Linked DNA regions of Homo sapiens. The protein of the gene in region 1 interacts with the protein of each later gene in a biochemical or structural test. Each region holds a gene or a part of one and is shown on either strand. Other genes may lie near its edges. The genes, in order: ROBO3 and CXCL14.

Region 1 (3,817 bases):
CAAACAAATCTCAAAATCCAGAAGCAGAATGAACATTAACTGAAGTTACCACATAAATAACTCTCTCTAAAGGAAGGGTAGGAATTTTGCTACTGGAAACAGGGTCAGCAAGATAAAGTAAGTATGATGAGCTCCACTCTGTTGGAAAACAAGGCAACCTGCTACCTCATTCCAAATCGACAGCCACAATTTTCTAACATCTTTTCTAGCACCTGGGACTGCTGAATTCTAATTAGATTCTCACATGAATAAAAAGGGTGACGGTTAGTAGGGGTGAAGCAGGTGTTACCCAGGGTCTCAGCATGGTGCCCTTTGTCCTGAGACCCAAACCTGCTTCCCTGTCTAATCTAATGGATTATCTTCCATGGATCTATGGAATGAAAACTGTTCAAGCAGGAAGAAGAGGAATGTGTTTACCACAACGTGTTAGAAGACTTTCATATGATTACTTCATGTGATCTTTATAACTATCCTCTAGAAGTCAAATTTGGGAAATTGGGGCTCAGGCAGGTTAAACAGCTTGTTCAGGGTTTCCCCACTAGTAAGTCACGGAGCTGGGAAGTAGACTCTGAAATTGTCTAATAAAATTCCCTGATGTTTTTGTGAATACATTTAACTACTTTGCCCAAGTTCACATCACTGCTGGAGACAGACGATGAACTAGAATCATAGGAATTCTCTGAATTTTGAGATTGACAGGAATGGGGACCTCTCCCTGCCCAGCTGCCTGCTCATTCCCTACCCTGGTTCCTTGCTCTGTCCCCAGGTCCTGCTTTTCCCCAGTCAGTCACTTCAGCCGACGGGGCGCTTCTCAGTGTCTCCAAGAGGCCAACTTAACATCACCGCGGTGCAGCGTGGGGATGCTGGGTACTACGTGTGCCAGGCTGTCAGTGTGGCTGGCAGCATCCTGGCCAAGGCCCTGCTGGAGATAAAAGGAGGTACGTGCCCATGGAGATAGGACTGGATCCATGGCTTGGGAGGAAATAATGGCCTAAAGTGATGTGTTTCTCTTGGAGTCTATATACTATGTCTGCAAGAGGAGAGATGTGTTCCTGAGGCATGACCTTGAAGTTTGGAAACCAGCAGCAGAAGCCACTAATAATGGCTGGTCCTGGGCAGAGACTTCAGATGATTATCAAAGCCCCCTCTGATCACCGGAAGTTTCAGGGGCTGGGGTAGGGAGGGTGAAGGAGCAGAGAATGAGGACAAGGGGCTGCCCGCGGGGCCCTAAGCTCCTCCCCTGAGGTGCACACGTTCTTCCTCTCTCAGCCTCTTTGGATGGGCTGCCTCCTGTCATCCTCCAGGGACCAGCCAATCAGACGCTGGTGCTTGGCTCCTCCGTGTGGCTGCCCTGCAGAGTGACTGGGAACCCTCAACCCAGTGTCCGATGGAAGAAGGATGGGCAGTGGCTGCAGGGGGATGACCTCCAGTTCAAGACAATGGCCAACGGTACCCTGTACATCGCCAATGTGCAGGTGAGTGTCACCCCTGGGGCCCTAGTAGCTGAGAATGGCTATCTGCTCCACGTTCCTTACACAAGTAAGTACTCACTGGGCCTGTAGCCCCATCTTTACCCCTCTGTTCTCTCAGAGCACCTAGTATCCAACATCTTCCCATCCTTCTGCTACCCGCCTCCACCCCCTCACTGGATCTTGCTCCACTCTCAGTTTGCCAGTGCTCTGCCCTCTCTTCCAGGAGATGGACATGGGCTTCTACAGCTGCGTGGCCAAGAGTTCCACAGGGGAAGCCACATGGAGCGGCTGGCTTAAGATGCGGGGTGAGTTTTTTCTTTCTTCCCTTATTTTGATAATACCTTCCTCCAAACCTGCTTCAACAGGTAGTCGATACCTCCTCAAACTCCGGGATTAACTTTATGTCACAAATGCCATGGTTACGGTGGTGAGGATGAGAAGGACAGTAGTGGTACCCATGGGAGGCAGATGTGAGTAGGGGTTCATATACTATAGCCCACTCTGACCATCACCGCAGCTCAGAGCTCCATAGCTCCCCTGGTAAGGAGACAGGTTACACTAGGATTATCCTTTCCCTATCTTTCTACTTAAAGATTATCTCCCACTGCAGAAGACTGGGGAGTATCACCAGACCCCCCTACAGAACCCAGTTCCCCTCCGGGGGCTCCCTCTCAGCCAGTGGTCACTGAGATCACCAAGAACAGCATTACCCTGACCTGGAAGCCCAACCCACAAACTGGGGCTGCAGTCACGTCTTATGTGATAGAGGCCTTCAGGTATGGAGAAAGTTTTGAATGCAAACCTGGAGAGTTAAAAGGAGGGGATCCTATGCCCTTAGGGTCTTTGCTATTGTGAGGTGGGATTCTCCAGTACCCTCTTGCAAGGGGAAGACATAATGGTCGTTCATAGAGAGTGGATGAGATGGAGTAGGCAGGTTGGGAGTTCCTGGCTTAGACAACCCTGTCATCTCCTTCTTGTTGTAGCCCAGCAGCTGGCAACACATGGCGTACTGTGGCAGATGGCGTGCAGCTGGAGACACACACAGTCAGCGGTCTGCAGCCCAATACCATCTACCTGTTTCTGGTTCGAGCAGTGGGAGCCTGGGGCCTCAGTGAGCCCAGCCCCGTCTCTGAGCCTGTCCGTACACAGGGTAAGGTCAGAGTCCCTGGGCTCATGAGCATGAAATGTAACATCATAAAGCAACCCTCTCCCCCAAAACCATGACACCACGGCAGTTCATACAGTTCTTTCCTGCTATGCCAGGTCTATACTGGTGGCCCGGCCTGGAATAGGAGATCATGTTTGCCTCTCACAGAAGAGACAAGGGAGGAGGAAGGCAGGGAGAGGGGAGGAGGGAAGAAGGAAAGGGAGAGAGGTAGTCATTCATTTTGGCAGCTTCTGACTTCTGAGCCTTTTACCCATAGATAATAATATAGATTATTAAGACTAGAAGGGACCATGGAGGGGCCATCTTCATCTTAGAGATGAGGAACTGAGGCCTTTAAAGGATGCATGTGTAATTATGCTAGCTGGACACCGAGGCCCATGTCTGGAAGCTATTTTCCTGACCAGTCCCCTCCTGACCATGGGGTGTGCTCTGGAGTACTAAGTGGAGCAGGGCAGAGGTAGGACACGAGCACACTCTCAGCCCTATCTCCCTGTCCCTGGTGGCCTCTGCTGAATGGGTTCCTTGGTCAACAGATAGCAGCCCCTCTAGGCCAGTGGAGGACCCATGGAGAGGCCAGCAGGGACTGGCGGAAGTGGCTGTGCGCCTGCAGGAGCCCATAGTCCTGGGACCCCGGACCCTGCAGGTGTCCTGGACTGTGAGTGTGGTATGGGGAGGAGATTCAGGGTGGGGATGATTATGAGGCACATGAGGGCCTCCAAGAGTGAGTATGGGAGAGTGGGAGGTGAGTGGCTGGGGAAGGCGGCATGAGTGGGAGGAGGGGCTGGGCCTGGATGGCCTGGAGGGCCTGTATGGCCCCAGCCTCCCCTTCTGGTGTGCCTTGTCCTGTCTCCCACAGGTGGATGGCCCAGTCCAGCTGGTGCAAGGTTTCCGGGTGTCTTGGAGGGTAGCAGGCCCTGAGGGAGGAAGCTGGACAATGTTGGACCTACAGTCCCCAAGCCAGCAAAGTACTGTGCTAAGAGGACTCCCTCCAGGGACCCAAATCCAGATCAAGGTGCAAGCCCAAGGCCAGGAGGGGCTGGGGGCTGAAAGCCTCTCTGTGACCAGGAGCATTCCTGAGGAGGGTAAGGAGGGCCACCGAACAGATGGATGGACAAGAGGGAAGAAGGGGTGGGGGTGGAGGTGGAGGGGGGATGAAAATTTGCAGGAGGAGAGCAGG
Region 2 (3,224 bases), on another chromosome or scaffold:
GAGCAGGAACAGCTCCAGTATCTCCCAGGCGTGGCTCCCACGCCTCCAGAGTCCAGAGTCTGCCCAGCTCCAGAGTCCCACAGCCTCCCAGGTGGGCATTTCCCACCTCCCCGAGTCCCCCTGGCATCTTGGGGCCCTGGACCCCAGGGTATCTTGACTGGCCCCATCTACTATCTTCTCTAAGTGGGAGAATATGAGTGATGTGCTCACCTCTTTAAGCCTTGGTTTCCTCATCTGTAAAATGGAGCTTCAATAGAACCACCCCCGTTGTGGTTGTTACCAGGATTCAAAGAGATAGGGCATGTAAGGCTCCCCGCACAGGGTCTGGCTCACAGTAGGCAATAATTACACCAGTCCTCTATTGTTGCCGTCCTTATGCAGCCCCAGGGAACTTGGAGAGCCCTTGGCTGAGGCATCCAGCCTCTTTGCTGCCCTCTGGTGCTGAGGCTCAGTGTGGTCTTGCGTGGAGGAGGCTGGGATCGTGACCCTCTAGTTCCCTGTGCTCCAACCTGCCTGCTCTGATACACCTGCTGCAGGGGTAGGAATCGTCGGGGAAGGAGCCTTAGCCTCAAGGCCTGGCTTCTTGGCTTCCTGACTGTAATGACAGCTCCACACGTTCCACAGAGGTGATGGTGTTGACAGGTATTTGGGAAATACCAGTTTTCTTTCCCAGCATATTTGTCCTTATTTTTTCAGGACATGGTAAACATTTTATTGTCATCCTAGCTTAATTAAATAGAAAAAAGGTGGCAGTCTAGAATTTTGGTACATTTCAAATATATTTTATTACTTTCCATCTTAGAAAGAATATGAAACCTGCATGCAATGCTAATGGTTTCTGACATGTACATAGCATATAACACAGCAGTACAATGCGGCATATACTGGGGGGCAGTGTGTGGAGGGGGCGTTCTTAAGGGTATATGTACAGAGGAAAGGGCGCATGGTCATCTTAGCTTTCGAAAGAGGACTGCACTGTTTAACATTGAAGAATTACATGGGGAATCACAAATATATTGCTTTAGTACTGCATGTTCTGTTGTGGTGAGGGAAAGAAACATGCTTTGAAGGTTTTCCCTTGTCAACAGAATGTGTGTCTGTAGCTGTGTATTGCGCATGTATTCATATATTTTTAAGTTTTCTCCTAAGGTTTTTGCTGACAGTGTTGGGAACCTCACATGCTTCTGAAGCATTAAATATTGAACCTGTGAACCTTTCAGAAATCCTCAGGTTGGGAAAGACCCCACACCTTCTTTAAGGATCATTTGTCTCGCCATCACAGGATCTTGGAAATGTTTCCTAGGGTGTGTAAAAATTAACCAGGGGGGAATGAAGCACATTTTTCTGGCAACCAAACTTGAGTTCCTCAGAGAACAGATGCAGAGAGACCTGCTCCTGCTTGCCCGGCTACAGGGGCCACTGTGGAGTCACACTGAGGCTGTGACCGGCCATAAGCCCAGGAGAGCCCGTGGCAGCTGTGCCGAGGCGCCAGGACCTCTAAGCGGAAGCTTCCCAAGCTAGGAATGGAGCAACACTGCAATGAAATGTGTCCACCAAGCTCATTGTTCCTCCCGGGCGCTTATAAAGCTCAGATGTATAGTGACGTATGGACAAATACAAAAAAGCATTTTTTAAAAAGGAAAGGCATGAGTTTTCCCCTTTTTGATAAAAAGCAGCCTGTGATGAAGTCTGGAGCACAAGAGAGATGGGTCTCCCATCTGGAAGCCTTTCGCACGCAGCTATAAAATGTAAAAACTGACCGTTGGTAAAAAGTGCTTCATAACAATATATAATTTGTGTCTTATGCCTGTGAGAAAGAAAGGCTTTTTTTTTTTTTTTTTTTTTTTTTTTTTTTTTTTTTTTTTTTAATCTGCAAAGTCCTTTGCACAAGTCTCCCAACTGGTTTGGAGTTTTCCCTTCTGAGGTTTTTCACCCTATTCTTCGTAGACCCTGGGGAGAAAAAACACATGTGTAAGTGGCTCAGGACATGAGGCAGGCCGTTCACAAGATGCTGGCTAAGCGGCTTCATTCACGTCTGGTCTGCAGGGAATGCCCCTGTCCCAGAACTGCAGGAACCCCCAGGAGAAGTGGGAGGGATCCTTCTGAGGATGTGGTCCCGGGGACCATGAAAACTCACACCAGTGTGGCTTTGTCTTTTCTAACCATCTGCAATCTCACTTCTGCAATCTCATTTTGTCCTCAGAGGCCTATGGAACAAACCCGCTTTGCATATGAGGAAACTGAGGCACCACAGACTTAAGATTTGCCCAGTGGCCACCGACTGTTAGTGGCAGGAATGTAGTCTTTCTCTAGCATGGCGGGCTGCTCCCACACCTCCTTGTTTCTTTCCGCGTCTGTACTCAGCCTCTCTATTTAGAGAAAATAGCAAGGGTGGGAGGCATTCCCTTACTTGACTTAGGCTTGTATATTTCTTTGTATTTTGCCCAAATAATGCATGTCCTCCAGAAGAATGCTAGCTCTAGAAGCTGCTTCCTGGAGACAGAAGAGGTGGTTGGTGGGGTGGGGCAGTGGTGCAGGAGGCCTGTGCCCCTCAGTCCCTGCTCCTGGCTGCATTGCCTCATCTCTACTCGTTCCCAGCCCCACCTTCCCCTCACCTCTCAAGCTGTGCCCAGTTAGATATTTTGCTTTCTTCTAGTTCTGCCCCATGGCTGCCCTGGGGCCATACGTTACACTTAGCCTATCACTTTTCTGTCTCGTTCTTGATTTCTGAGTAAGACCACTGAATTATCCATTGAAATAAAATGCCTGACTAGGCTGCTTCCTGTGGTGGCCAGAAGCTCCCTGGAAGCTCTGGTCTCTGAAGTGCACAGAGCTCCTCTGTGTGGCCCCCATGGGCCTGAGCCCACCGTATACCCTTCTACTTCCTCCAACCTAGCTTTGGCATTCTCTTTCTCTCTCTCTCTGTACAAAGAGGACTTCAAACACTTCCTTTATCACTGTTCTATGTTCATTAAGATATTTTCAACTTGTTTCAGGGGAGGGAGGTGGGGAGGGCAGGGACCTCAACACTCTAAGAAAGAGGGGTGAACTAATTTTATAGCAAAGTGAGAGAAGGCCTGGTAGTGAGAGGCTCTCGTTGCTTTTGTTATTGGAATTTTCAGGAAAAAAAAAAGCAGGGCCATGTTTAGACCTGTGGGTGCCTCCTTTTCCAGGCTGCAGCTCAGGTGGAGGGGAGAAGCAAGGTGAGCTAAAGGTTTGAGTAT

Evidence for each region.
Region 2: the proteins of ROBO3 (region 1) and CXCL14 form a complex in vitro, tested with the Homo sapiens proteins (one large-scale study listed by BioGRID).

What each region holds. Positions count from the first base shown.
Region 1 is NC_000011.10:124,871,615-124,875,431, forward strand, and holds part of ROBO3 (roundabout homolog 3 isoform a precursor), read left to right. Parts: intron 1-766; coding exon 767-938; intron 939-1,269; coding exon 1,270-1,475; intron 1,476-1,695; coding exon 1,696-1,777; intron 1,778-2,082; coding exon 2,083-2,248; intron 2,249-2,455; coding exon 2,456-2,622; intron 2,623-3,173; coding exon 3,174-3,295; intron 3,296-3,496; coding exon 3,497-3,722; intron 3,723-3,817. UniProt on the Homo sapiens protein: Receptor involved in axon guidance during development. Acts as a multifunctional regulator of pathfinding that simultaneously mediates NELL2 repulsion, inhibits SLIT repulsion, and facilitates Netrin-1/NTN1 attraction.
Region 2 is NC_000005.10:135,569,919-135,573,142, forward strand, and holds the end of CXCL14 (C-X-C motif chemokine 14 precursor), read right to left. Parts: intron 1,951-3,224; coding exon 1,935-1,950; 3' UTR 761-1,934; downstream 1-760. UniProt on the Homo sapiens protein: Potent chemoattractant for neutrophils, and weaker for dendritic cells. Not chemotactic for T-cells, B-cells, monocytes, natural killer cells or granulocytes. Does not inhibit proliferation of myeloid progenitors in colony formation assays.